Linked DNA regions of Homo sapiens. The protein of the gene in region 1 interacts with the protein of each later gene in a pairwise test. Each region holds a gene or a part of one and is shown in the gene's direction. Other genes may lie near its edges. The genes, in order: GOLM1, SLC30A3, STRIT1 and PGRMC1.

The links.
Region 2: the proteins of GOLM1 (region 1) and SLC30A3 interact in binary tests that used the Homo sapiens proteins (3 or more experiments, as listed by UniProt).
Region 3: the proteins of GOLM1 (region 1) and STRIT1 interact in binary tests that used the Homo sapiens proteins (3 or more experiments, as listed by UniProt).
Region 4: the proteins of GOLM1 (region 1) and PGRMC1 interact in binary tests that used the Homo sapiens proteins (3 or more experiments, as listed by UniProt).

The regions. Positions count from the first base shown.
Region 1 is NC_000009.12:86,096,545-86,103,776, reverse strand, and holds the start of GOLM1 (Golgi membrane protein 1), read left to right. Parts: upstream 1-4,218; 5' UTR 4,219-4,366; intron 4,367-7,232.
Region 2 is NC_000002.12:27,260,037-27,268,009, reverse strand, and holds the start of SLC30A3 (probable proton-coupled zinc antiporter SLC30A3), read left to right. Parts: upstream 1-4,962; 5' UTR 4,963-5,103; coding exon 5,104-5,198; intron 5,199-7,973. UniProt on the Homo sapiens protein: Probable proton-coupled zinc ion antiporter mediating the import of zinc from cytoplasm into synaptic vesicles and participating to cellular zinc ion homeostasis in the brain.
Region 3 is NC_000003.12:155,290,670-155,298,256, reverse strand, and holds the start of STRIT1 (sarcoplasmic/endoplasmic reticulum calcium ATPase regulator DWORF), read left to right. Parts: upstream 1-4,573; 5' UTR 4,574-4,624; coding exon 4,625-4,637; intron 4,638-7,218; coding exon 7,219-7,313; 3' UTR 7,314-7,317; intron 7,318-7,410; 3' UTR 7,411-7,587.
Region 4 is NC_000023.11:119,232,211-119,239,287, forward strand, and holds the start of PGRMC1 (membrane-associated progesterone receptor component 1), read left to right. Parts: upstream 1-4,074; 5' UTR 4,075-4,153; coding exon 4,154-4,481; intron 4,482-7,077. UniProt on the Homo sapiens protein: Component of a progesterone-binding protein complex. Binds progesterone. Has many reported cellular functions (heme homeostasis, interaction with CYPs). Required for the maintenance of uterine histoarchitecture and normal female reproductive lifespan.

The DNA.
Region 1 (7,232 bases):
CTGAGAAAGGAAATAATGGATACTGAAAGCAAACACAGCAAGATATTTACAGCAAATACTTTTTAGTCTGTTCAATTCAATTTATTTCATGCAGTTTACCCTTGAACAATCTACGGGTTAGGGACACCCCCATCTCTGCACAGTTGGAAATCTGCATTTAACTTTGATTCCCCCAAAACTTAACTACTGATAGCCTACTGTTGACTGGTAGCCTTACTGATAACATAAACAGTTAACACATATTTTGCATGTTATATGTATTATAAACTGTATTCTTACAATAAGGTAAGCTAGAGAAAAGAAGGCAGCATTTAAGAGCAATGAACTAGGATATCTAGCAGAAGAAATGTCTAAGCAGTAAAGCATTCAAGGTGTTGCATGGATTGTTTTGGCTGCTTACAGTAAAATTAGAGAAGAAATAAATGATTAAAAGATGAAATTTATAACTAAAAAGGAAGCAGAAAAAAATTTTGAAAATTTTCAGCCTGGCCAAGAGTGCAAAGGCATGTTTGGGAGAGCCTCATAAAGATGTAAGTCCTTGTAGGGATATAGTCCAGTGGACCCCTTGCTAAAGAGATTACCATGGCTAGAAAGGAGTCAGGTGCTATTCATCAAGACAAGAAAGACCCCAATGGCATTTCAGAGATTTTTTAGGTTGCCCCTTCCATCACAGGCCCAGAGCAGGACCTTGAAGGCAAGGTTTCCAGAGACGTGGCCACAGGACCTCAGCATTTGCTACCAGGCACTGCCTCAAGTATCTGCTCCCCGCTTTCCAGCACAGCACTCCACAGCTGTTGCAGCTGTGTGGCTCAAGTGGGCCCAGCTGTGGCTTAGGCTACTGTTCTAGAGGGTGTAAGTGGTGGGCCTTGGCGGCATCCATGTGGTGCTAATTCTGAAGGTACACAGAGTTCATGAGCTATGGGGCTATGGCAGCCTCCACCTAGATTCCAAAGAATGTACTGGACAGCCTGGGGATACAGGCAGAAACTTGCCGTAGGGGCAGAACTGCCACAGAGATTCCCTACCAGGGAAATGCCTAGTGGAGCCATGGAAGCAAAGCCATAGCAGGGAACCACCACTAGGACAATGACCAATGGAACTGTGGGGTTGGGGCTGTCCCAGAGCCCCCAGAACTGTAGAGCTACCAGTGTGCAACACAGCTTGGAAGAGCTTTAGACATGAGACTACAAACCATGAGGTTCTGTGACATGACTACACCCAGCCAAGTTATACAGATGGGGCAGCCCAAGACCTTGGGGGTCCAACTCCCACCCTAGTATGCTTAGAAGGTGAGATATAGTCAAGAAAGGCTATTCTGAGGCTTTGGGATTTAATGTTATTTTTTCCCTGTTGGGTTTTGGACTTACTTGGGACCAGTTACCCCTTTATCTTACATATTTCTCCCTTTGGGAATGTGAATACCTATACTGTGCCTGTGCCACCATTGTATTTTGGAAGTAAATAATTTGTTTTAATTTCACAGGCTCATTGCTGGAGGAATTTGTCTTAGGATGAATTGTGCCTTGAATCTTGCTCATATCTGATTTAGATGAGACTCTGGACTTTCTAGTTGGTGCTAGAGTGAAGACCTTAGGGCTGCCAGGTGCAGTGGCTCATGACTGTAGTCCCACCACTCTCGAAGGCTGAGGCAGGTGGATTGCTTGAGCCCAGGAGTTTGAGACCAGCCTGGGCCACATGTCAAAACCTCATCTCTACAAAAAATACCAAAAAAATTAGCTGAGCATGATGGCATACACCTGTAGTCCCAGTTACTCAGGAGGCTGAGGTGGGAGAATCACCTGAGCCCAGGAGGTTGAGGCTGTAGTGAGCCATGATCACACCACTGCACTTCTGCCGGGGGGACAGAGTGAAACCCTGTCTCAAAATAAATAAATAAATAAATAAATATTAAAGCCTTTAGGGCTGTTGGGATGGAATAAATGTATTTTGTATGTGAGAAGGATATGAACTGGGGGTGGTGGGGGGCATAGAAGCAGAATGCTATGGTTTGAATGTGTGCTCCATAAAGCACGTGTTGAAAACTGAATCTCCAGTGCAACAGTGTTGGGAGGTGGGGCCCAAAGGGAGGTGTTTAGGTCATAAAGGCTCCACTCTTATAAATAAATTAATGCCAATTATAGAGGGTTTGAGGCTGCAAGTTCAATTTCACATACACCCTCTTGCCCTTCTGCCTTCCACCACAGGCTGATGCAGCAAGAAGGCCCTTGCAAGATGCCAGCACCTTGATATTAGACTTCCTAGCCTTCAGAACTATGAGAAATACATTTCTTTTCTTTATAAATTACTGAGTCTGTGGAATTGTGTTATAGCAACACAAAATGGACTAAGACATTAAGGAAAGGATGCTTAACAGGCAAAACATGGATGCTTCCTTCAACCAACCACTGTAGCCCCTTGCACATTGTTTAATCAAAACCCATCCAATTGAATTTTCAGGGCCAGCAACTGATTAGCTTTTTTATAAGGAATGTAAATTATGTATATAGATATATATAAAACTGCATCTTAAAATTTTCAACTTTTGTCATAAAGAATCTAACGAAAAGGACTAATTCATCTTCAATTAAAATATAGCTCATTCAGCCAGCTGCCTTAGCACCTAGACATATGGACCTGTTCCATAAAGTGTTTAAGAATCACTGAGTGAGTCGCTAATTAGTTGCTGATAAATGAGAGACTAATGGAGACCCTCCTTAGAGCCAAATGATATAGAAGTTACAGTCCACCAGTCTAAGAATGTAAACTATACTAAGAGAGCTAAAATGGGCAAGAAAGGGAATTTCCTGTACCTGTCCCCGATTATGGTTATTTAAGCTCACTAGAAGATCAAAGTGACACAACTTAAGTCTGCAAAACCAGGGCTGACATCTGATACAGCCTCAGCTTCTGAATGCTTTGGTCTGACCCTACAACAGTTTAACAGTTGCAGATAACAAAAATATCATTTTGGAATATAGTAGAACATTCCTCTAAAGGGGTCATGTATGGTCAGCTTCTAATTCAGCTAAGAGGTTTTAGCTGGTAAAGATACGTTTCCTGCAGTTAAGAAGCTCCATGCTCAGGTAGCAATAGGGTATCTTGATCACCTTTTTTAAGGTGACTCTTTGTTCTGGTTAAAATCAATTTCAGCTGTGAGCATTCCTTTAGGTGTTCATGTATTTACTTGTTTTTTTATTGTGATTTGAGAGAGGCGCAGAGGAAGGAGTTTCCTTTCCCAGACACCAGAGCTAGGAAGACATGAAGACATGATTCTAGGAAAACTGTTCTCAATCTTGGCCGTATACTGTATTAGGATTATCTGGGAAGCTCAAAACAAACAAAAAATATCAAGTTCACTTTGAACTCTGGAAGTGGGACCCTGGTTCCTAAATGCTCTAAAAGCTCCCCAAATAATTCTAATGGATGGCAGGTGCTGCCAGAGTTAAGAACCATTGCTTTAGAATTTTCTAGCATGGTTTCCCTGTAGGTCACTAGTTTTGTGGCATTCTCTCCGGGAGGTACGGCCTCATAGGGCTTCTCAAACATCAGTGCGCCTGAGCGTCATCTGAGGCGCTGTTTCAAATGCAGCTGCCCGGGCTATAAGATCACACCCGAAGGCGTCCGGGAATCTTCACTTTTTCCGTTGCTAGCAGTGGAAGGGTCACAGACCAAACACTAAGGCCTGAGCGGTGACAACCGAGGCGAGATGATGGTCAACAGGGAATGCCTCGTGGGAGAAAAAAGACAATTTTGTGAGTATAAGCCCCCTAAAAACCTGTTTTTCGTTCGCTTCCTTCTCTGGGCAGTTTTGACCCGACGACTTTTATAAAGAAGGTAACGTGAGTGTGGCGCTGGGTGCGGTTGGCTGTTCGGGAACATTCCCTCGGGGCGGAACGTGGGATGGGGGCTCCCCCCAGGTACCCTTTCCCCACAGCCGCTTCCCCGCTCCGCGTCGCTGCTCAGGCGCCAGCTCCCGCGTCGGAAGGGGCGATGGGGTGGCCCGGGGGAAGGGGCAACGCCCAGCGGCGAGAACTGGGCGCACGCTGGCGTTCCTGCTCCCGCCGAGGGGCGGCCACCGGCCGGGGCGCGCGCACCGTGGGGCCGGGAGTCCGCGCGGCCCCGGCAGCCCCTGCCTCGCTTCTCCGCGCTCGCGGCGCCGCCTCCTCCCTTCGCGCCGCCGGCGCTGCTCGGGGGCGGGGCCTTGCCGCTGCGGAGGCCGGAGACGCGGCGGCGCTGGACGCGGAGGCGCTGGGCGCACGGCGCGGAGCCGGCCGGAGCTCGAGGCCGGCGGCGGCGGGAGAGCGACCCGGGCGGCCTCGTAGCGGGGCCCCGGATCCCCGAGTGGCGGCCGGAGCCTCGAAAAGAGGTGAGTGGGCGGCGCGCGGCCCCAGGCTGCCCGAACCGCGGTCCATCGCTTCCTCCCTCCTTTGCCCAGGGCCCGTACCCCGCGCGCCGAGACCTCGCGTCGGTCCCCGGAGCCTCCCCGCGGCTTGCGCCGGGGCTGCAACCTTCGCTGGCTGCGCTCGGGGCTGGCTCCGCACCTTCCTGCACCGAGTAGCCCGCGGCTGCCTGGGCCCCTCGGCTCGCTCCCCAAGACCGGGCGCGCGGCCCCCTTGCCCTGCGATGAGGGGCCTCGCGAGGATTCCCTGCCCTGCAGTCTCAGGCGATGCGGGGCCTGTCTTTTTGTTCTGAGCTTTGTCACGCGCGTCGGCATCCAAAGTCAAAAGCGTGCACCCCCTAAGTCGCACTAGTTCCAGTTCTGCAGCGTGATTTGCACCAGGCGCGGGAGGCTGGCCGAGCCGCGAGTCTCTCGGCTCCCGCCGCCTCTTCCTCCCCTCCAGCCCCAGGCGCGCTCCGGCCGCCCTGGGGTCCACGTTGCCGCTGGGCCTCGTGGCTGGTGACCCCGGAGCTTGGGCTCCGGGTCCTCCCGCCGCGCGTCCAGAGCGCGGCTGCATCCCGTTCTCGTGGATGCTCGGGGTTTTCTCGCATACCTGTGTTTCCACCTTTGCCAACGTGGAGGATCCACACAACTTTGCCCTGCTGTAAAAATCATATCCCATTTAATATTTTTAATGATTTGCTTTTAAGAAACAAAATGTGAAGAATAACAATTTTGATGAAATTTTTTAGCAAAATTTAAGAATTATTATATTTGAAATACCATGATGATGCTGGACAATTTCAGATGTCCCATAGCCAGATTTGCAAAACTAAACTTGTGTGACTTTCACGATTTTGAGGTTTTCTTTGTCTGATTTGGGGTCCCTAGGCCCTACATTATGCACATTATTGAGGAACATTTCTAGGGCTGGATTAGTGAGATACACAATAACCTGATGAAGTATTTAGCAGCGCTTGAGTGGCTTTGTTTAGCTCATGGCCATCAGGTTGGCTCAAATCTCAGTTTTAGTATTTCTGAATTTTGGAGGGCATGGGACAATCTCTTGTCAGTTTTTGTGGGTCTCCAAAGGCATCCTAGCTTCTTCCAGTTGTGTTATAAAAGATGAAGCTAAGCTCATTACTTTCTTTCTTAATAGAAACTAGTAACTTGCTAAGACTTACTGTTTTTAGGCCAGACACTCAATTCTTAAGGTGTCAGTGAACAAAAATTGAATTGTTAGGATGGTTAAAGAAAAGAGGTTAGCTTTTAAGATACATTTTGTTCTCCTATGGAGAGGTTATCCAATTTTCACATTTTTTTTTAAAGTTGGTTTTACAGGAAAACGAAAGAAATGAGAGGAAAGTAGTGCTGAGGGTGGGGCCAGGAAATTGTGGTGACTTGGATATTAAGGGCCAGGGATACCATCTGCTTTCTAATGGCTGGTTTAGGTCCAGTTATTGATGGGAAATGAAAAGATTTTGCATTTACATTCCACCCGCTGTTGTTGTTGTTGTTGAGGGCTGGGCAGAAACAACAGTTAGGACAGCTGACCATAGCAGGCCCAGGGCTACCCGGGTTTATATATATATGGCCACCTTCCCCAGGAAGGAGGGAACTGCTACCCTTATCCTGTGAAAGTGCGAGCTGGCTTTCTGCATTGGAAGTACAGAGGGCAGAACCTGGGGAAAATGCGTCTGCGTGGATCAGTAGGAAGGGTGGAGCATCACTTTAGGCAGGTGTGCTGAGAAGAAGACAGGTGTCAGTTGATGGGCACTATTGGTGGGAGGGAGCTTGAAGGCAGCGTGGTCCCTGAGGTCCAGCCGCCTTTCTCAAAGGACCTGGGGTGGCCATTGGGGGCGGGGGAGCGGTGTTCTGTGCCTTTGGCTTAAATTCTGCAGCATTATTGTTATTACTTGTTTTTTCTTGAAATAAAAAAAAAATAAGTTGCCCTATGAAAAAAGATACATTTCTTTTTCAGTGACGTAATGTGAGAAATAACATTTGTAATTGGGATTTTTTAAAAGCACTTCTGTTTTTGTAAAACAAAACAATTTTTTAAACATTTGTAAAAAAGTAGAAGGAACAGAAGGAATGGTGCTACTATGCTTTTGCTCTCACCTTAGAAAAGGGCGAATGATATTTCACTTGCTCCCCAAAAACTGTTCTTAAAGATCATGGTGGTTTTCTGGACTTCTCACGTTATTGATGAAGTTACATTAAAAGAGAGACTTGTCTCCAAATTTATGAAGTGTTTCTTAAATTTCCAGAGAGTCTTTCCTTTCTTTCACACAGATATTTCTCACACTTTCAGGAAAAAAAAAAAAAAAAGTCCATGCCTTCTCAGATTTTTACATTTTGGTCTTATTTTCCTTTAAAACCCTTAAGCACTTTATTAGTAGGACTTCCCTTGCTAAGATTTTGAAGATTAGTGCCTGACAGAAAAAAGTACATATATAAATACTATATAATATGATTATAGTTGTTTATATTGTAATTTGCTATCGTTTCCCAACTTTTTTGATGTTTCTTAGTAATAAAAAAACTTTTTTAACACTCTTCTGTATGTGCATTTGTTGCTTATTTATAAACTACATGTATTTGCTGTTATGGTTATATTGTGTCTCAAGGCCCAATATACACATAGGGCTGGATTTGTTAACAACATTAGAGGTAGAAACCCTGTTTTAAATACTCTTTCTCTTAATTTTAAGTATTTTGGGCCTGTGTCTTGTCAGATCTGATTACATCAGCATAGTTTCTACTTCATGAGGTATCTCATGCAAGGCTGACTCAGTATAGAGCTTTGCCAGCCACGGTATTTTGCTGTCCTGTGTTTGCATTTATTAGTGGA
Region 2 (7,973 bases), on another chromosome or scaffold:
AAACAAGGAATAGAAATAGAGAATGTCTAGGGAGAGGTTTCAGTGTTTTTTTGTTTTTTGAGTTTTTTTTTTTTTTGAGATGGAGTCTTGTTTGTTGCCCAGGCTGGAGTGCAGTGGCAAGATCTCGGCTCACTGCAACCTCCGCCTTCCAGGTTTGAGTGATTCTCCTGCCTCAGCCTCCAGAGTAGCTGGGATTACAGGCACATGTCACCACGCCTGGCTTATTTTTGTATTTTTAGTAGAGACGGGGTTTCCCCATATTGGCCAGGCTGGTCTCGAACTCCTGACCTCAGGTGATCCACCCACCTCGGCCTCCCAAAGTGCTGGGATTACAGGCGTGAGCCACCGCATCCAGTCAGGTTGCAGTTTTTAAACGGACAAGCAGAGAGGGCCTGGCCAGGTGATATTTGAGTCAAGACCTGAAGCATGTGAGGAGGTAGGTCATGAGCACATCTGGCAGAGTGCATTACAGCTGGTGAGATAAGCAAATGTGAAGGCCCTGGGGTGGGAGCATACCTGGTGTGTTGTAGGACTCACAAGAAGGCCAGGATGGCTGGGGAATGAGGTGGGAGAAGTGTGAAATGAGATCAGAGGAGCTAAATTCCGTAGGACCCCTTGCAGGCCATTAGAAGGACTCTGGCTGGTACTCTGAGTGTGATGGGGAGTGACAAATCTGATCTATGTTTACCTAACTGCTTGGTTGAGAATAGACTATAAGGCAGTAAGGATGGAAACATGGAGACCATGGAGGAGGCTATTGCAGTAATCAAGAAGACAGATGATAGTGGTTTGGACAAGGGCGGGATCAGGATTTGCTGACAGCTTGGATGTAGAGTGAAAATAGAGGAGTCGAGGATGACCCTAGGATGTCTGGCCTGAGCAGATGGGAGGATGGAGTTACCATATTCTGACATGGGAAGACTGCAGAAAGAGAAGGTTCAGGATGGCGTGACAATCAGGGGCTCAGTTTTAGACTTATGGAGCTTGATAGGCCTGCCTACCAGACAATAAGGAAGGGATGTCAAGCTGACATGTGGATATATGAGTTTGGAGTCCAAGTGAGAGATCTGAGAATCACCACCAAACACATGACATTTATTATTTATTTATTTATGAGATGGAATCTCACCTGTCATCCAGGCTGGAGTGCAGTGGCATAATCTCAGCTCACTGCAACCTCTGCCTCCCGAATTCAAGTGATTCTCCTGCCTCAGCCTCACAAGTAGGTGGGACTATAGGTGCATGCCACCACACCCAGCTAATTTTTGTATTTTTTAGTAGAGATGGGGTTTCACCATGTTGGCCAGGATGGTCTCAAACTCCTGATCTCAAGTGATCTGCCTGCCTCGGCCTCCCAAAGTGCTGGAATTATAGGTGTGAGCCACCAGCCAGGCTATTTTTAATCCTTTTTAATAGAAAAATTCAAACCCATACAAAAATAGAGAGAATGGTACAGTGACTCTCTATGTACCCAGAATCTAGCTTCAACAATCATTACTTTCTGCTGTTATTGGATAGTATTTAAAGACCAGAAACTGGATGATAGCTCCATGGGAGTGAGTGTGGAAAGAAAAGAGAAGAGAGTGACCAAGGCCTAGGCTAATTCAGCAAGAAAAGATTGAGAAGGTGGGGAGGAACCAGCAAAGGGGACTGAAAATAAACAGCCAGTGAAGTAGGAGGAAAACCAGATTATGGTAGCCTGGAAGCCAAATGATGAAACAAATAATTCCCAAGTAACAATTTAGTTACAGTATGATCAGTGCTGAAAGAAATAAACAGTGTGTTGACCCAGCATGGTGGCTCACACCTGTAGTCCCAGCACTTTGGGAGGCTGAGGCAGGAGGATCACTTGAGTCCAGGAGGTCGAGGCTGTGGTGAGCCATGTTTGTACCACTGCACTCCAGCCTGAGCAACAGAGTGAGACCCTGTTTCCAAAAAAAAAAAAAAAAGAACAAAACAGAAAAAGTATTGTGCGATGAGAGTGTATGACATGAGAATTAACTTAGTGTGGGGGCCAGAGAAGGCCTCCCCGAGGCAGTGACATTTAAGCTGTTGCCCTCCCTCATTCTCCCTGTGACCAGCTAAAATCCTACCTCCTCCATCCTGCTTCCACTCAACTAGCTCCTCCTTTCTGGGATGGCTTAATTGAGGACAGTGTGGCAGCCATTAGTGGGGTTTGGGGACACAGATGAGAAAGAAACAATTCCTGCCTTCAGGGAGCTTGCCCTGTAGCAGGGAGACAGACAAGCAAAGGACTTCATCACCATGAGGTGAGTGCTGGGATCAGATAAGCACAGTGTGAGCCTTGAGAGAAGCAGGGAGGGACACATACCCAGTCTGGGAGAAGTCAGGAAAGGCTTCCTGGAGGTGACATCTGAGTGGAGCATGGAGTAGAAGTTGGACCTCCAGGTTGCCTCCTCTGTCCATGCTCTTCAGCTTGGCTTGCACTTGTCAGGTGTTAACTCTTGTCCACATGCTTACATTTTAAAATTTGCCTGAAATCTCCAGCCCAGATTAAATCCTGACCTCAGTGCAGAGAATCGCACTTGAGGCCTGGCATTCGCGAGGACCCTTTGCAAAGATGTTCACAGGGCCATTTGATAGCTCTTTGAGGAACAGGTGGAAGCATCCTGTTTCGCCGCCAAGCTTTCCTTACATAAATTTTCAAGTGAAGGTTGGTATTCCCACCGCCGGCGCCCTCGGTTTCTGGAGGCGGCACGTTTGGCCACGCGCTGCGAGGCGCCTCTGCCTTCCCCGCCTGGTGGCTCCCGGCAGGGGCGGGCAGGGCACGTGAGGGCGTCTGCGCCCCCTCCTGGCACTCGGTGCTGCTGGCCGCGCGGGCTGCCCGGGAAGGGAAATCCCGGAGGAAGCCATTGTTGTTATGTCCCCTGTTGTCGTCATCGGCTGAGCCGTGCCAAGAATCCCTTTCCCCGCATAGGACCCCGCAGTTTCTCCCCATTCTCGAGCTCACCCGCCAGGGTCACTACGGGCCAGGCTGCCGCATCCGAGCCGCGGAGTGCGCGGTGGCCGCTGCGCATCCCAGCTCCAGGGTTCTCAGAATTGGGGAGAGCCCTAGGATGGGTGCGACGCTTAGAAAACCGACGGCGCCGGGCCCGACGTACCCAGAGCCCTGGCATAGCTAAGCAGGGACTTGGGTTCCACCTTGGCTCTGATAAGTAGCCCGAAAAGGTGAACTTGGCCGGTGGTTTCCTGCTCTCGCCGCCTCAATTTGCTTCCCTGTGACCCGAGGAGAAACAGAGGTCCGTCAAGTCCCGCGCCTTAAAGGGAGGTTAGAGGGAGAACGACCCCCTCGCTCCCTTACCCCCTCACCCCTCATGGGCTTTGGACTGGGGAGGCTGGGGGCTGGCGCGGAGGAGAGGCTGGCGCAGCCGGGGGTGGGGACGGCGCGGAGGGCGCGCGCAGCCCCTGTGGCTCTCCCGTGCCGCTCTGCAGCAGCGGCGCAGGACAGTCCCTTCGCACGCGCCGCCCGCACACCTTGGCACGGGCCAAGCCACACTCTCCCCCGCCGGAACAGCCAGCCCGCCGCCCAGCTTTCCTAATCCGTTTAAGCCTCACCTCCTCCGCGAAGCTCTCCCGGGTTAACCCCATCACTTCCAACCACTGTATCTGGCACGTGCTCCCGTTTTTGTTTTGTTTTGTTTTGTTTTTTTGCAAGTGCACTCTTGGGCTCGTTGGAATAACAATATCGAGGGTAGGTGTCTGTCCCCAGAAGCCTAAGTTCAGGACGCCCAGTGTGTTCTGAAGGATGCGGCTGATGAGTTTCTTGCCTGGGCTCACTAACCATTCCCACCCTCCACGCTTCCCCATCCCTGCTCACTCGCTCCCCTCCTCCTACGGACCCTCCTCTTCACAGACTGTCACAGCTTCGAGTGCACAATCCTCTTCCCACCCCCTCCCATTCTACAGTGGCGGCAGGTGCGAGGGGAGAGAACATTGAGCATTTGAAGCTTCGACTTGAGGCTCGGCCACCGACTTTGCTGTAAGTCGCTCCCTCCCCTGGGTTTTAGTTTCCCCCAAATGAGGCAGAATGCGGTAATGTCCAGGAGGGCGCTGCAGGTGTGGAGGATGGGAATCACTAGCTGACACGCTGCCCCGCTGCCCCTCAGCCCCTCTCCATAAACAGTGGCCGTGACACCAGATAGGCGGCTCGACTTCACTGGACCCCCGCCCGTAAGAGAACTGTGAGCGCTCTCCAGTTGCCAGTGCGGCGTCCAGAGCCGGGGAGGGAAAGAGGATGGGGGTCCAGGCCGGGCCCTTTATTCACAGCCTGCATGACCTTGGACTCTTCTTCCTCTGGGTCTCAGTTTACTCATTTGAAAAGCAGGGATAACAGTGGGTTGAAGGAGAGCAGGAAGCTTGTCACCCAATGTTTCTGTATAAAAATAAATGATCATTCGCGGTACAGTGATTGGCAGCAGACTGGGCTCGTGAATTCCGACCCCAGATTCTCCGTAAAGGGGTTTCTGGAGTCCCTGGAATCTCCCTGTGTCACCGCTCACCTCATGTTCTTTCTGGTTCTCTGGAGATAGGTAATGGGTCCGCTCCTGTTTCTGCCTCCGCGTGAGGGTTGCGGCCACAGGGTGACGGCGTGGTGGGCGACACCCCCGCGCAGGCATGCACAGAGTGGTGGTCGTTGGGCGAAGGTTGGTCGTGAGGTTCTTGGGCTTCAGGAGCGAGGCTTGGAACCGGTGGGCGGGACTGTGTGCAGAGGTGGGGCTAGCTCGCCTGGGGGACGGGGCTGTGGAGATGAGGAGTTCTCCAGAACTCGGGTGGCGGGGCGCTCCCGGGCTCTGGCGCGGGGAAATGGGGCTTTGGCAGTGGGGGCGGGGCTTAAGGGTGGGGAGAGGCCGGGGAGCCTGGAGGCGGAGCTTGGGGAGCTCGCCCCACGCGGGGCGGGGCTCCGGCGGCAGCGGGATCTGCAGTTCGGACTCCGCGCGCCACAGTCGCTGCAGTTCGCTCCACTCTGGTGGCCCCGCCGCCCTGCGGGGATCCCGGGGGTCGGCGGGCTGCTCGGACTTGGCGCGGGGCCGGCCCGGCCTCTCTCTTCCTCGGTGGGGCCTAGACGGTCGGGGCACCGGGAACATGGAGCCCTCTCCAGCCGCTGGGGGCTTGGAGACCACTCGCCTGGTGAGCCCCCGGGACCGCGGTGGCGCCGGAGGCAGCCTGCGTTTGAAGAGGTAGGACAGACCTGGGCTGGCCCTCGGCCCGGGGGCGCCACCCTACTACCCTCCGTCCATTTCGTTGTCTCTCTCGGCGCGGGCCCCGGCGGCCGCCCCAGCGCACCGCGGGTCCCTCGCTCCGCTGCACCCCGCTTCATCCCCTCTGGCCACACGGAGCGCCCAGCCCTACACAGCCGGCTACGCCTCCTCCCGGCCGCCTGACTTCCTCGGGTGAAGCGGCCTCTCACTCCCCTCCGGCCGGCGTCCCAGGCCGCCGGACCCCTCCGCCACCCCCGCGGCGCCTGCCTTCCCTGGGAGCAGCTGCCGCTCGGTCGGGCCGGAGCCCTCGCCCGGTGCGCCAAGGTCCGCATTGCCCCGGGCCCAGGGCGGGAGCGCCTCGCTGCCCAGGCTTCAGAGCTCCCTCTGTAGGCCCCGGGGGCTCCCCTCCGCGCGCCCCCTCCAGCCGCGGCCAGCTGTGGGCGCCGGGGCCCGAGGATGGGCCGGGCTCCGCGCGGGTCTTGCGGGCCCCTGGGGGGCGGGCGGCCGCCGGGAAGCGAGGGGGCGGCGAGGAAGGAGCAGGTGCGGTCTGGGCAGCGGGGGTATTCCCGGCTCCGCACAGACGGGGCCGGGGGCGGCGAGGTGTGAAATGAGGCGCGCGGAGCGGCCGGGACAGCGGGCCGGGGGTGGCAGGAGAACCGCCAACGCGCCCCGCCGGCCCCCGCGCCTGCCGCCACCGTCCACCTGCCCCTCTGAGCGGCCGTCCGACCTCCCTGCCCACCCCCGTGGGCCATCTTGTCTGTCGGCTGACCGTCCGTTTGTCTCCGGAATTTGGCAGGGTCTCCGGCTTTTTCTCTTCCCCCACCTCTCTCAATCTTTCTGTTTCTCTCCTAGTCCCTTTCCCTTTGTCTCTGACGTGGTGCTTCTGTGTGCTTCTCGCTCTTTCTTTGGGTGGGGGCCTTCAAGCTGGGTTGGGGGAGGGGGTGAGCAGAAGAGAGCTGGACCCCTTCCTGCAGGGGCCTGCAGAGACGCGGTGGGGGCTCTGCCGTAGGCCTGGCATCTCTTCAGGTGTCCTTTTGATTTTGGTTCAGCCCCTGCTACGTCACCCCTCTTCCCCGCTCAATATCGGTTGTTGGTTGGGGGTTTCGGAGGGCCAGGGAGAGGAAACAGCCTTTCCTTGTCTCTAAACAGCATGTAGCCACCCCACATGCCCACACCCCCACACACCAACAGCCAGGCTTCCTTAGTGCCCAAATTATGCAGAACAAAAGGGAGCAGCCTGTTGATGGGTGGCCACCTTGATGACTGGCTGTGCTGTGCCTTACAAGGCCAGGGAATGAATGTTGCCCACTGCCCCCAAAGCCACCCAGCCTCTGCGCTTCAGACTCACATCTCCAACTCCAGTCCATCTTCACTCATATGACCATTAGTCACCGAATCCTGCAGCATTTTCTGAAAGGCATTTCCTAACCTACCTGCCCCTCCAGGGAAGCTCTGGCCTGGTTTGTTCTAGACCCCTCCATTTCCTCTCTTCTCCTCTCTTCCTCCCATCAGCAAGGTCATCTCAGTGCTCAGGAGATATTTGTTCAAGCAGTCAGTGTATCTCCCTTTATGTTCCTTTGAGCCCATCACTTTCCTCCTCAGCCCTCCCCTGACACTTCACGCTTAGACTCCAAGCCACAAACCTCGTCTTTGTCATTCTACATGTCTGGAACACCCTTCTCCAACTAGGTCTCATCTCCTTAAACATACCTTTCTCTGTGAAGTTCTCCGAGCCCGCTGTGAGGGAGTGCTCCCTTCCCTGCACCCCAAAGTGCTTTGTTCATAACCCTCCTAGCATCAACCTGTCCTTATGTAGTAAGCCATTTGTTACAATCTGTCTTTCCCACCAGACCAGGCTTCATTATGTGTGCTCTGCCTGGTGCACCTCATTGAATGAATGAGGATCGGTTTCACAGCCTCCTTCACCACGCCATCTCCTCTGGAAACACATCCAGAATCATACACGCCCAGATTCTAAGTCTTGGATGGGGCTTTGGAAATTCAAGAAATTAATCTACCAGTATTTCAGTTCTCTGTACAAGCACCAAATGTTCCCCCTACCTCCCTCAAAACTCAGTTCACCCACTTGGCAGAATTGTCTTTAGCCAGAAGGCCCCAGACATCCCGCCCCACTTTGCTGCTATGATCACATTTCTATCTGGAGCCATCGTTTTTACTTGTGGGTATTCTTGTCACACCTCCATGAGTATTTCTAGTACTGTATTTTCTATTCAGGTCCTGAATTCTGTGGAAAATTCTGTCCTTGCTGGGTTCAGGTTGGGTAGTGGTGGGGCTGAGAATTGGACCAGAATGGACTTAGCACTCAGCCTGACCTCACTCAGCCTCTGGCATCCCCAGGTGAGGTCCCAAGCCCCATTCATTTGTCAAGGGAGACTTATGGTACCATGCAGTTAAGGTGGGCTCTGCTGGGTGCTTATAGTCGGACTGAAGTCCAATTAACATGCTCCTCCCACTGCCATCCTCAGCCATAGCAGGCTGCACCCCTTCCTCCCATGACAACCCCAGCTCTGGAATCTAGCCATCAGTTCTCTGTGCCCGGAATCAGACTTTTTGGCCCCAATGTCCCGCTCGTCTCTTAAAGGGCCACACTTCAGCTTCATGTCTAGGGAGGGCGGGGGCAGGATCCAGGAGTGGAGGTTCTGGGAGGTGGGCCTGGAAAGGAGGCACACCAAGGCCAGGAACACATGCTGAGTCCCACTCCACACTTCACTCCACCTTCCCTTCATACTGCCT
Region 3 (7,587 bases), on another chromosome or scaffold:
AACAATATTTTTTCTTTGAATGTCATAACACTGCCTTCTGAGCTTCATGTCTTTTATTGAGAAATCAGCTGTTAATCTTATTGAGTATCCCTTGCATATAGTGAGTTAGTTATTTCTCTTTTGATGCTTTCAAGATTTTCTCTTTGTGTTTGTTTCTTTTCTTTCTTTCTTTCTTTCTTTCTTTCTTTCTTTCTTTCTTTCTTTCTTTCTTTCTTTCTTTTTTTTTGATAGAGTCTCACTCTGTTGCCCAGGCTGGAGTGCAGTGGTGTGATCTTGGCTCACTGCAATGACCACCTCCCAGGTTCAAGTGATTTTTGTGCCTCAGCTTCCTGAGTAGCTGGGATTACAGGTGTGTACCACCACACCTGGCTCATTTTTGTATTTTTAGTAGAGATGGGATTTCATCGTGTTGACAAGGCTGGTCTCAACTCCTGACATCAAGTGATCTACCTGCCTCCACCTTCCAAAGTGCTAGGATTATAGGCATGAGCCACTGCACCCAACCTGTCTTTGGTTCTTGACCGTTATTTTGTGTCTAGGTATTGGTCTCTTTGGGTTTATTCTACCTAGAATTAATTGAGCTTCTTGAATATGTACGTTAACATTTTTCACAAATTTGGGAAGCTTTTGGCCATGATTTATTCAAATATTTTTTCTGCCCTTTCTCTTCTTCTTTTAGGACTCTAATTATGCATATGTTGATATGCTTGATGGTGTCCCACAGATCTCTAAGGCCATATTCATTATTATTTTTTCTTCTTGTTTCTTGTACAGGATAATCTCAATCAAACTGCCTTCAAATTAACTGATTCTTTCATCTGCCTGCTCAATCTGCTGTTGAGCCTCTAGTAAAATTTTCATTTCAGTCATTGCACCTTTCAACTTCAGAATTTGTTTGCTCTTTTAAAAATAGTATTTATCTGGCTACTGATATTGTCTTTGCTGAGATGGCATTCTTTTGCTTTTTTTAGTTATTTGAAAATACTTAAAATAGCTGACATAAAGTCTTTGTTAGTCAGTCTAATTTATAGACCTTCTCAGAAATAGTTATTTTTGATAGTTTTTTTATCCCTTTGTATGGGCATACATTTTTGTTCCTTTGCATATCTCATAACTTTTTTTTGTTGAAAGTTAGTAGTTTTAAATAATGTCAACTCTTAAATCAGATTCTACCTCCTCCCAAGAGTTTGTTGTCATTGCTGTTTGTTGTTGTTATTATTCTGAACTGATTGTGTACAATTTGCATTCTTTGTTGTATGTGACCACTAAAATTTTTGCTCAATTAGATTAGTTATCAACTAATGATTGGACAATGATTTCTTTAAATGCCTATAACTAGTATGCCTTCCAGACTTTAATGATGGGCTCTGTGTATGTGTTGAGGTATGCCTTTAACACTCAGCCAGGCAGTTGACAACTGCCTTACCATTTGCTTTCCATTTTGAGCCTCAAGGTTAGCCAGAGGTGAAAGCTTAGGGCCTTTTCAGGTCTTTCCTAAGCATACCCACAGCCATGAGGTCATGCCCATAGCTGAACATATGCATGTAGCCTTCTAGATTCTTAAGGATATGTGAAACTTTTCAAACCCCTATTGACATCTCATTCCCTAGATTCTCCTTTTAAGCTTTTTAGTTAGCCTATTGTTCACTCTGTTACCTAGGCAGCTGTGATGTTAAACAATTGCCTCTAATTGTTTTCAACAAATGCCCTGGGAGTGGGTACTTTTCACACAGTGGAAGTTCTGAGTCTTATCAAATAAAGACAGCCTTGCAGGTGAGGTCTTTGGGAGAACCACCAGACAGTTTAAATAATTACTGTTCTCTGAAACTGAGACTTTGAAAGAGTTCTGTTCTGCTCTGTCTCCTCTGGTGGCTGCTAGTCTGCTAGTTTTCACTGAGATTTTGGGATATTGTTTAAGGCTGCTACAAAGCTGGAGATGGGGGAGATGAGAATAGGCCAAATTAAAACATCACAAAACTCTTGCTGTTCTTACCTAGATTCCAGCTCCCCCAGTTGCTGTAAGTCCTTGGTTAATTTCTACAATTCTTAAAAATTGATTCAAAAATTTTAGATGGCTTTCTTGGTGCTCTTATGAAGGAAAGATATTTTGGAGTCCCCCACTCCTCTATTTTTGCAGATGTCACTTTCTTTTATTTGTTTATATTCTTATTTATAGATTATTCTAATGTTACTGGTAATTAAATACACTGTATTATCTATATATGCATATATTATAAGGCTAGAGTATAGTTAAGATCATTTTATTTCTTATTACTCTTTTAGGTATTGCCATAAGTAAACCTTTGTTTAGAGTGCAAACTAAGCTACCTTATACTGCACTTATTACATCCACCTACCCAGTCAGCCAGCCATGAAGCAAAGATCCATGAGCATCCACCATGGTCAGGTCTATGTACTATAATTCCAGACATTAGTAGTGAAAAATATTTGAAAAGTGAAGAATTCTTAAATATTTTAAAGAAAAACCAAATATTTAAATTTTTCGGCTCACATATCTCTGAAGAATCTAATGTCACCTTGAGAATAAGGGATTTGAGAGCTAAATGTTTAAGACAGTATGTAAAGTAAAAAAGTAGAAAATGTTCCTAATTAGTATGTCCTAAGAGAAAGATTAGAAAACGGTCAAATATAGGCCCTTGGGTTTATAAGCTCAAAGTGAAACCAGTCTATTAATGAATAAAACATCCTTTCCTGATTAAATATTATAAAACTTATATTTTTTAAAAAATTTACTGATGATATAACCAAGGAAATGAGATTCTAGGTTGAATTCTTTTCTGAAGTCTGAGAAATTCATGTTGATTAAGTTAGTTTTTTCTCTTCTTCTTTCCATAGAAAAGTAAGGAAAATAAATGATGAATTATAAACTAATCCCTCCTCAAACTCCAAATTGACAGCAATAATGTTAATAATAGTCAATTTCATGTCAAGAAGAAAGCTTAATATAATTGAAATGGAAATGAGTATTTAAAATGTAGAAACCTTTTCATATGTTTCAGGCAAATTATTTTATTTTATTATGTATGTTTGTGCTCTTTGTGGGTACCACACTGTTTGTTTTAAATATCATTTTTTTCCTTAAGATAATTAGTGTTCATTTGAACTTACTGAATTAACATTTTTTATATTTAAATGAGATCAATAACATTTTTATTTCTTCTCTCTCTTTTGGCCTCAGTTAACCTTTGTTTAACGTATTATTATTTAATATTGAAAAAAATACCCAACTTTGCCAGGTAAGCAAGGGATTTTGTTGCATAAACAATACGTAGTTTTTCTGCTTACCTGACATAGCCAGACATTTTTTCAATATTAAATAATATATTGAGAGAGAGACTGAGGAGAGAGATGACAACTTGACATAAATGATATAAATGTGCCAGATTCTTGGCTGCACACTCTAATCTATAGGTACATTATTTGAGGTAGAAAGTCAAATGTTCTTCTTGCCTGTGAGAGTGGGAGGATTCTGAATTCATATAATAGCAAGGAGTTCAGTGTCACTGAAGTTATCACTGCAAATGGAAGAGTAGAGAAATAAGGGTTTTTAGGTGTCTAAACAAAGAGTTGGGATTTTTATTGTCTAGGAGATGAAGAACTATTGGTGGATTTTTGAGCAGTGATGGAACATGGTCATTTGCAAGGCAATATCACTCTTGGAACTCTGTGGAGATAAATTTGATCAGGCCAGACCTGCCTTTACAGGTCTTAATCTTATGTCAAATTTTTTTTGGGAAGATGCTCACAGGGTCACTCTGCAAAACTTTTCCAGCCAGATCCCCAATTTAAAGTTATTCCAATGAGAATATAGAGAATAGTCTAGGTCAGTTACATAAACCAGTTTGGACTTTGAAAAATGAAATGTCCTATTTTTATACATTGCTAATAAAAACAACAAGCTTATGACTGCTTCCTAAAAATTCTAGGCGACGTCTGTATTGTTTTAGTTTCTAGTACATTTATATTAACACTTTTTGTTTTAGAATAGTTCAAAGAAAGGGGCACCATTTCATTTTATGTTTTCCACCTGTAAAGTAATAAAGAACTGTCTACATTTCATACAGACTTTCATTTCATCTTTATGCGACTCCCATGAGTAGGTATTATTATCCTCATTTTAAAACTAAAGAAGCTGATTCCCAGGTTAAGCAACTTGGCTTTCATTACAGAAAGAGCTGGAATTTGAACCCAAGTCTCTCCAACATCAAAATCCTTTCTTTCTAATATATCACCCTTCTCCTTGATAGCACTTGTATAGGTGGAATGTTGTTTTTCCTCTGTACACCTTCTTTATAGAACATTTTCTTCATGTTACCTAAAGGCATGGTGCAAATTAAAAACCTGCGAATATCTGCATTAGGATAATTCAGCTTACCTAATTGTTTAGGTCATGTAGCCCCTCGTTTCCTCCATAATAATAGAATAAAGAGCCAGAGGAGTTCTGCTTTCCCATGACTTACATCACTCTGCAGACAATTGGCAGCCAGGAGACGGGCAGCTGCCGCAATCTTCAGATTTCTCTCTATTTAAAGTTCAAAGAGACGCTGGATAACAAAAGAAAGAGGTAAGCGTGGCCTGACCTAGCCACCCACCAACAGGAATAATGGCTGAAAAAGGTAAGATTTAAGGCATAGGATTCTCTTGGCAAAAAAAAAAAAAAGGCTTCTTGACTTTGGTTCATTTATGTTTCTTGGTGTTTCCCAGTCACTCTAAAAAATGTGATATCTATGCTAAATGACCATTAACCATATATGTTAGTGTGGCTGCAAAAATGCATTAATTATGTAATCTATGGATCAGGTCTATAGGTTATGAATAATTTTAAAATGATCAACAAAGGAAAAGAGCTTAATTTTGTTAATACTTATTTTGAAAGGTGAGTTAGAAATCAGTTCTCCTGATTTCAATTCTGAGCCAGAATTGAAGACAGTTAAGTTCTGTGTCAGACCTGCTAGTAAATGGCTATGTGAGTTTGCAGAAGTCCCTATACCTCTCTGAGTCTGTTTTCTGACAGTAAAATGAGAATATTGGGCTCAGGCATCTATTCCACACCTAAAATTTTTGTTCCACATCTAACTTTTTTCTGGTTTTTAAACATTTTTTTGTATTTATATTTTATAGTTATATAAAATAATTGATTCCAATTTGTCAAAAAGTTGAATATATACTGTATCTAAGAAATGGTTTTTAAATATTAAACAGGAATTTTTGCTTTGAATCTTGACAATGACCTTGTGAAATATGCATATCATCATCATCCCCATTTTATAGATAAGAAAATGGAGACACAGCAGTTTAGTAACTTGTTCATGATCGCTAAAGAGTGGTGGCACCAGGTGTTTAACCTGGACAGTCTTTTCCAGAGCACAGTGTCCTCAAGAACACTTCCAGCTGTAACTACTTTGATATGCTCAGAACTGGACAAGAGAGAAGCATTTTAGAATTACACTTCATGTTTAAGAGATGTTTTGTTCTTATTTGTGCTAGTAATGTAAGTGACATATGCAAAGTATGTTGTGCTCTTACGTATTTCTACTTCCAAACAATTCCACAGGTATTAGTAAAGTTGAAAACATTAGTGTTAAAAAAACAATGGAATGTATACTTTGGGTGTTAAAATGCACAGTTAGTGCTACTGGTACTATTTTACAAGGAAAGTAAATAATGAGATACTTTTAGGGCTTTGTGATATGTAAATTTTATTAAAATATGCATGTATAAAATATAAATGCACAATTAAAGGGTTAATATTAATTTTCAAATTCTTTGAAATTGGGAAAAATATAAAGCCACATACCTAGACAGTTCAAAAAAATTACTGCTATGTACTTCCATTGTAATGGTACCTTAATTCATAAAAAGGCTTTCGTCCAAATGAGAGTAAAGGGCAACTCATGTTGTTTGCTTTATCCTTAAGCAATACCACATGTCAAGTAAAGAGAAGAGTTTTCCATTTAGTGCTTAATGCCTTATACAAGGTCACAGTGAGATGGAGAAACAAGAAAAGCATGTTGAATTTTGTCAGTTAAGAGAGACTCTAGCATTCTTGGAAAAATTGATTTAAAGTATTAAAATTTATTTCAACTTCAGAAAGTTTGCTTTTATAAAAGTGTCTTCTAATTTTAAATGTGTCTCATCTCCTGATGATTTTATTTTAATAGCATTTTTAAAAATTTCACATTTTAAAGTGATGGAAATTGTAATAGGAGTATAATTGCTAAGAATATGCATTCTCTCTTTTAACTAATGGCATAAGATCTAATTATGCTTTGCAGTTAAGAATATATCTGAGTCCTTAACACAGGGACATTAATTCCATAGAATGTTTTTCTGCGCTCTTTCTAAATCTTTTTGTGTGATGTAGGTGTGGATTTCTGTGTGTATGCCTGTGTATGTTTGCTTGAAAGAACAAGAGTTACATGCAGTGCATACTTTAAAAAAGATACTTGTATAAATTGCTTTTTACAGGTAAGAGTACAAATAGGAGGCACAGAAGGAATCATATATAACAAACGCCATTTATGTGTGTGTTGGATTATTACTGCCCATTGATTCAGGTTCAGTGCTGGTTGTTATACTGAACAATTTTTAAACAATAGAAATTCTTTTCTGTAGTCAAGAATGGTTACATAATGTATGATACTTTCCTTTTCCCTGTGATATTTAAAATTACATTCAGCTATTGAGGCCAAGGACAGTTCTCAATACCTTTCCTTGTGTTATAATTATTTACTTTAGTGGGAATTGCCTCAGAGTTGTATTAGATTGTTTTTTATATAAATAGCTGCTGTATATGTTATTGCACAAATGCATGAATGTGTTCTGTATACACTAAACACACACGGTGGTTAGAGTTTACAAAGCTTTGCACATATGTTATGTCATTTGATGTTCAAAACTATTCCAGGAGGTAGAGAGCACAAGTTTCATTATTCATATTTTACCAGTAGGAAAGTTCAAGCCCAGAATTGCCAAAGGTCACATAACAGTAAAAGACCCATGGTTTGATTCAAAATACCCAGGGTTTATGACAGTCTCACGTATTCTCTGTAGAAAAGAAAAAATAATTATGTATGGGTATAACTAGAGAGTGTATGCTTTTTTCTTAATGTTACCAAATTCCTTTTATTCTCTTGACACAGAAAATTTAATATGAAAATGACCAATATAATCTGTTTTCTACGGTTTATTTTAAAGCGGGGTCTACATTTTCACACCTTCTGGTTCCTATTCTTCTCCTGATTGGCTGGATTGTGGGCTGCATCATAATGATTTATGTTGTCTTCTCTTAGAAAGGTAAGGGTTTTAATAATTGAATGTTTATTTATAGTCTAAATTACTCCAGAAACAATCTTTTCTATTTTACTAATGGAATGTTTTGTCTTTCAGGCAAGAAGATATCAGATTGACATCATTTAGAAGAATTAAGAAAACTATGAACATGACTGATTATTAAATGTCTCATGTTAAACAATGCAATGTTTGACATCACTTTACAAACTTGGATCATAAACTGGCACTTTGGTATGCATAAGAATTTCTTCAGGACAATAAGAAATTATGAGT
Region 4 (7,077 bases), on another chromosome or scaffold:
TAGACCCTTTTACAATATAATTAAGTTCAACAAATATTTATTGCATGCCTACTATGTGCCAGACATGGTCTAGGGGCTTGAAATACATTGGTGAACAAAATGAATCTTGCATTCTAGCAATTTCACTCTTGCCAATTGTGTCAGAGTGCTTGTTTTACTCTGTGCTTGCCAACACCAAGTATTACCATTCTTAAAAAGCTCCAAGAAACAAGAGAAAAAAGAACACTCCAGTCATTTGAATGATGAGAAATGGTGCATTGTTTTTATGTTCCTTTGGATTTATTTGCTTCCTTACTAGGCTGAATTATTTCCCAAACATTTTCTAGCTAATCAGCCAATTGTTCTATTTTTCTCTGAAAGCTCTTTAAAACCTTTGAAAATAATTAAAAGGAGACAGAAAGTTTGAAAACACTAAAAGACTTAACATGTATCTTGGGAAATAAGTAGTCCTTGGGTCAAGTACATCGGCTTTAGGAATTGACTTGGAGCCAAAGAGCATATTAAGGCAACTCTCATGTTCTGAAGGGGGCTTTTTATTCAGGAGCACTCTTGCTTATTTCCAGATAACTTGAGAACTGCCACCCTGGAGGAGACCATTCCACTCAGCATTGATTCTGACATGAGCCTGAATGATGGGATGCTTTTCTTCAACAATCTCTACATCCCAGTGTTAGCTAATAGCCCACTTTATTGAACATCAAATCTGGTTTGCAAGCATTTATATTTTTAAACTGTATCACTTCTTGAGGTCTTAAGTTGCACAAGTTTTCTACCCTCCTTGTGAAGCAGGACTTCCTTTAATCCATTATCCTCCAAGGGGACACAGAGGTGTAGCAGAAGAGACACTGGACTACGATAAATGAGAATTATTAATCCTCCCCATCCCTCCATGAAAACACTTTCCCCAGATTTAATAGCGGTTACCTTTGAGGAAAGAGAATCAAGAGTGAGGAGAGGGACTTCAGTTGTCTTCTATATCTTCCCATAGTTTGAATTTTCTAACTTTAGACAAATATTACTTTGAAAAAACATTCCAGCAGGGGTTATCTGGGTGGGGAGCTAATGGCTTGGTTTTTGTTTTGTTTTTTTACTCTGTGTCTCTCTTTATTGGAAAAAAATGATAAAACTTTTATTATATAAAATTTCCCCCAGTTTTATAAAACAAAATGTGTGTGTGTGTGTGTGTGTGTGTGTGTGTGTGTGTGTATGTTGCATGTCTGCAAGAATATAAGCCAAACTGCTAATGTATGGGCCTGATTTAAGTACTGTTTGGGGAACTTGGAGAGGGAGAAAGGAGTTTCATTTTTTACTTTATACACTCACGTATTGTTTAAGTTTGTTATAGTGAACATGTATTATCATTCTACATTTTTTTTCAGAAAATAAATAATAAACCATTTTCCCCCCTGAGGTTAAAAGTGACACATGCCCATTGTGGAAAATGTAGAAAGGTATAAGGAAGAAACTAACAATCACAACAGTTAACATTTTAGCATATTTCTTTCCACGCTTTGTTTTATGAATTTTTTGACATAGTTGAGTTCATACTGTATATAGTTTTGTATCCTGTTTTTCCCTCAAGATTAAAACACAAGCGTTTTGCCATGTCATGATTTTTGGTAAAAGAATTTACCAAAACAGTTTTAGTTAAAAGAAGGTAGATTTATTAGATAAAGTAGGAAAATATGTTGTCAGAGAGACAAAGGGCAGCCTGCAAGAGAGAAGCCAACTGCCAGGAGACAAAGGCTTGCTGGAAATTTTATAGGATGGCGTTTATGCTGTCTGTTGAAGAGGTCTTTGTGTAATATTGATAATGCCAAGGTCGCAATGAGCTAACTTACAGGTGTCTGGTGATAGCTGGGCATGGGAAGATTGTGAATTATTTGCGCAGGAAGGCTGCATCTTGGTCATGAAGAAAGGGAGATTTGTAGCTTATTTGCTTTTTCTTTTTGCTATTTCATGCTCCCACCAGCCTGATTCCCTTTCCCTAATTAGGACTCCAGAATGATGATATTTGAATGGCCTTTTAATGGTTTTGTCACAATTCAAGTGAATTAATTCGCCATTTTATTTGAAGTCGGACATTTAGGTTGTTTCCAGTTTTTCTGTATTAAAAATGAATCTCTGCTGAGCATCTTAGTAATGAAATATTTGTCTGCGTTTCTGTCTCCTTGGGATGGATTCCTGAAAATGGAATTACTAGGTCAAAGAGCAGATTTCTAGAAGTGGGATTAATGGATAGAAAATATTTTTATGGATAATAAAAGGTTATACCCAACAGCGTATGTGAGTCTCACCACTCTCTCGCCAATAGTGTGTTATCCTTTTTTTTTTCCCTTTTATCTTTCCTGTAGAAAAGTAGTAGGTGACAGCGGCATCTCCATGCTTTTCTTTTTGTTACTAATGAGACTGAACATTTTTCATATGCTTATTCACCACTGGCATGCTCTCTTTTGTGAACTACCTGTTCCTATTTTTTCCCATTTATTGACTAGAATCTTATACATTTTCTTATCAATCCAAATGATCTCTCAAATAAATATTAACCCTTTGTCATATTAGTTGCAAATGAAAATATTTTATAAGTTTATTAGCTTTCTAAATTTTCTTGGCCATACATGTTAAAAGAGATAGATTCTAACTATAGACAAGTGCCCTCAGTTTGAGCCTGTTTCTCCATGATTAAATTGAAGAGTTTTGACAAAAGATTTGGAGGGGCTGTTTCAGCTAATCCCAAATTTAGCTCTGAGAAAAATGCCTGGGCCCGATACAAAGATTGTTTGGCTCATTGCACTTTATAATGATTTAAGAAGATGTGGGGGGCAGGGATGGAAGCAGTTTTTGCCAGAAATTTTTAGAATTCTGAGGTAGGAAGCCAATCTTTACTCAAGTCTCTTGCGTGTTGGGAGGAGGAGTAAGTTATGTGCAAGCCAACAGAACACTTGGTGGAAAAGTACTGCTCTGGGCTGCAGATGTGTGCACGGCTTGGTTTTAATTATTTGTTTCCCTCTCTATCCTTTCTTCTCCTCCCCTCCCCCCGCCACCAGAAAAAGGGCCAGATTAGGACGAGGCAACCCCTTCCTCCGTGGAGGTCTGCTTCTGTGCAGCCTGTTAGCACATCAAAGGCCGGATGAAATACCTAGGAAAGGAAGGGACCAGGCCTAGGATCCTTCCAAACTCCCGCCTTTGTCTGGGCTCCAGCTCAGGGTTATTGTGACTGCCAAGGGTAGCCTGACAGACTCCAAATAGAAGAACGCTGCCAAACAAAGAAACTTTCACATTATTCTGAGGGGGGAAAAAAGAGCAACAAGAGAACGTTGCTTGTTAATGCCTGGTGACTGAGCAAATCAGTAATTGCAAAAGGGTTTTTCGGAGAACAAACCCAAAGTTAACTGGGCGATCAGATTCGTTTCCCCAGATAATAGGGAGAGTTGTGCACTGACTTTAGCAATCCCGGGGGTGTCGGTCCCACAGCATCTGGGGGAGAATTGGGGAAGGGCCATCAAGGAGAGCGAATGGGGGTTCCCAAGGTGAAAATGAGTCGTGTAGGGCTCTAACATAGAAAATGGAGTTCGAAGAATGAGTTTCCTGTCTCCTAAGACAGCTTGGAGGGCCCGGGAACGGCAGGGGGAAGATGAGGGGCTTCAGAATGGGAGGCAGGGAAAAGCCTGCAGCAACAGAAAGGGAGTCGGTGTCTGGCGCGCATCAGGTGGCGGAGGGGCGCTCGCACAGAGCCCGGCAATGCCGAGGCCCTCCCAACGGGTCGGTCTGCGAGGAGCAAAAAAGGGGTTCAGAGGAGGGCAGCGCGTGCGTCGCGCTCAGCTATAGGATGGCGCGAGGATGGCGTGAGGCTGGGCTGGGGCCTCCCAGGTAGAACTGAGGGGGGCACCGCGCGGCCGCGGGGGAGCGGCGCCGGACTCTAGAGGCTTTGGAGGGGGCCTGAGGGCTGCGGGGCGGGACCGAGCAGGGCGGGGCGCTTAGGTGGCCTCGGGGGAGGCGGGGCTTGGAGGCTCCGCCCCTCAGGCCCCGCCTCCTCCCCGGCTAGTCTTTGGCCGCCGCCGAACCCCGCGCGCCACTCGCTCGCTCAGAGGGAGGAGAAAGTGGCGAGTTCCGGATCCCTGCCTAGCGCGGCCCAACCTTTACTCCAGAGATCATGGCTGCCGAGGATGTGGTGGCGACTGGCGCCGACCCAAGCGATCTGGAGAGCGGCGGGCTGCTGCATGAGATTTTCACGTCGCCGCTCAACCTGCTGCTGCTTGGCCTCTGCATCTTCCTGCTCTACAAGATCGTGCGCGGGGACCAGCCGGCGGCCAGCGGCGACAGCGACGACGACGAGCCGCCCCCTCTGCCCCGCCTCAAGCGGCGCGACTTCACCCCCGCCGAGCTGCGGCGCTTCGACGGCGTCCAGGACCCGCGCATACTCATGGCCATCAACGGCAAGGTGTTCGATGTGACCAAAGGCCGCAAATTCTACGGGCCCGGTACGCGGCCGGCGAGGGGGGCTTGGAGACAAAAGAAGGGGGCCCCGGCACGGGGCTGGGCGGGAGAGAGGCGAGGCGGGAGCGGGGCGCCCCTGAGTGGAGGGAGGAATGGCGGCGAGCTAGGGTAGGCGGGTAGGCGGGCAGGCGGAGAGCCGGGAGGCTCCCGGGGCGGGCAGGGAACAAGAGGCGCTCTAGAGGGGCTGCGGGCCAGTCAGGGACGCGGATCCCCGGCCCGCGCTGACAGCGCTGGGAGGGGGTTAGAGAAAGAAGGCTGAGGCGCTTAAGCCGGGGGTGGGTGGGACCACGAAGCTCGAAGGCGTTGAGGGGGGACACATCAAAGCCCAGGCTGTTGGGGTAGTTTTCGAAGGTCCTGGGCTTGGGGATTCCTGGAAGGAGGAGGGGGTAGTGTCGGGTTCTAGGAAGGAAATGAGGGTGTTCCGAGGGAGGCATGGGGGAGGGCGAGAGTGAGAAAAGGTCCAGACCTAGAGAAGACGGGAAGGCCAATGACACCGGGAGTAGGTTTGAAATATGAGGGTGTGGGAGAAAACGCCGAGACGGGATTAGCAGCAGGTAAAAGCTTTGTGCCCGGTGGATAGTGATGTGTGTGTGCACTCGTGGTGTGTGCATGCGCGGTGTGTGCGTGTTTAGTGTATGTGATTTATCAGGGGTGTGTGTGTGTGGTGTGTGCATGCGCGCTTGAAATGGGTCATGCGTCAGGTATGTGTGTGGCATGTGTTTGGTCTGTGTGCGCTTGTGCTGTGTGTGGCAGATGGGGAAAGGCTGGAAGGTGAACAAGGAGGAAGGGGGCTGTTTGAGGGAGGAATAAAGGCTGAATATGGTGGACAATGGTAACGTGGCAAGCTTTTAAGGTAATATGGTATTTAGTCTATAGCAGGAGAGAAAGGATTAGAAGCCAAGAAAAATTAAAATGGAGGGAGGGAGAAGTGGGAGGATACCAAGAAACAAAAGGAGTAGAGCTAAGAAGACTGCTGGGTGGGGGGATATCAGGAAAAGCCAACCAGAGGGAAATGAAGAATGGATGACTGCTGCACTGCTGAGCTGTTGGAGAAGGCAGGCCTGATGGGTTCCTTAGAGGCGAGGTTTTTGCAAACCTGGTTGCGTATCAGAATCACCTGATGCATCTGAGGAAAAATACAGATTCCCAGTCTAACCGCCAGAGCTGCAAATGAGTCTCGGGTGGTCCGGGAGTCTGTATTTTAATATGCTTCCCAGGCGAATTTGAAAAGCAGCCAGGCTTGCAAAGTCCTGCTTTATAGAATACTTGGAGATGAGGAAGAAGAGGTTTTGGCTCCTCCAATATGGACTCCTCTAAACACAGGGAGCTTAGAGGATGTCCACATGGACGGTGCTCATTCCACACTGGCCTGAGAGAGGGAAGAGTACAGAAGGCAGTACACAAACTCAGGCATTCATTTTAGTCTCCCAGTCCAACTGATCAAAATCAGATGTGTTAAGGTTAAGGAGCTCAGTTTTTTCTTGCAGACATTTATTTATTATAAAAAATAAATTTTATTTATTTTTTAGAGACAGGGTCTCCCTCCTGTGTTGCCCAGGCTGGTCTCGAACTCCTGGGCGCAAGCAGTCCTTCCACCTCCATTTCCCAAAGTGCTGGGATTACAGGCATGAGCCACTGCACCGGGCCTGTGGATATTTTAGAATACCTGCTTTCTATAGGCATGTAACTGTCAAAATCATTTGAAAACCACATACATTATTTGTCACTTAGAGTAGCACACATAGTTGCTTTATCAATAAACATAATCATGTAAATACCTGTTAATATTGAGCTCAATATTAAAGGAGTGAAAACATGTGCATGAGGCATCATCATGACTGTAGTTTGCAGAGTCATTGAGAGGATGTCAGCCTGTGCACAGAGCACAAAACTGGGAGTCAGGCAACCTGCGTTCTAGTCCTGATTGGGTCATGACTAGCTGTGTGACCTTGTGCAAAGCATTGTTCTCTCAGAGCCTTAGTTTTCCCTCTGAAAAGTGATAAAGATGGCCTATTGTGAGATCTCTGTCTCTATCTTGCACTGTCATTCAGTGAGCCCATGACTACGTGACATCTTGGTAGAAAGTGATGCTTCATGTTGTAAAGGATTCCTAAAAATTAGTCATTCTAGTGCCTGTTAATTCTGTGCAAGGCACTGTTGTAGATGTGGGAATATAGCAGTGAGCAAAACAGACACAAATCTCTGCCTATGGAGCTTACGTTCTAGTGAATATATGTTGCACTGAATAATATGTATTTTTAAAAGACTTTTAATGTTCCCACTAGAGAACATTTAATTGTTTAAATGTTTAAATATTCTATGAGGTTTAAATATTCTATGTTTAAATATTCTATGAGGTTTGCTTGGTAAAGACTCACTCTACCAAGCCAATGACCATAATTTCTGAAATGGTAAGGTTCAAACCATTGCATTTGCCTATTCTCAAGCACTAGGTGCTGCCATTTCCACTAGGGGTGTACATTTATGAAAAATGTGGGCTTTTTTTTACCTTCTTTAGTGAATGTGGCAGCATGTAATGATGATTAAAAATAAGCATTTTTCTTTGGAATTTTACTTGCA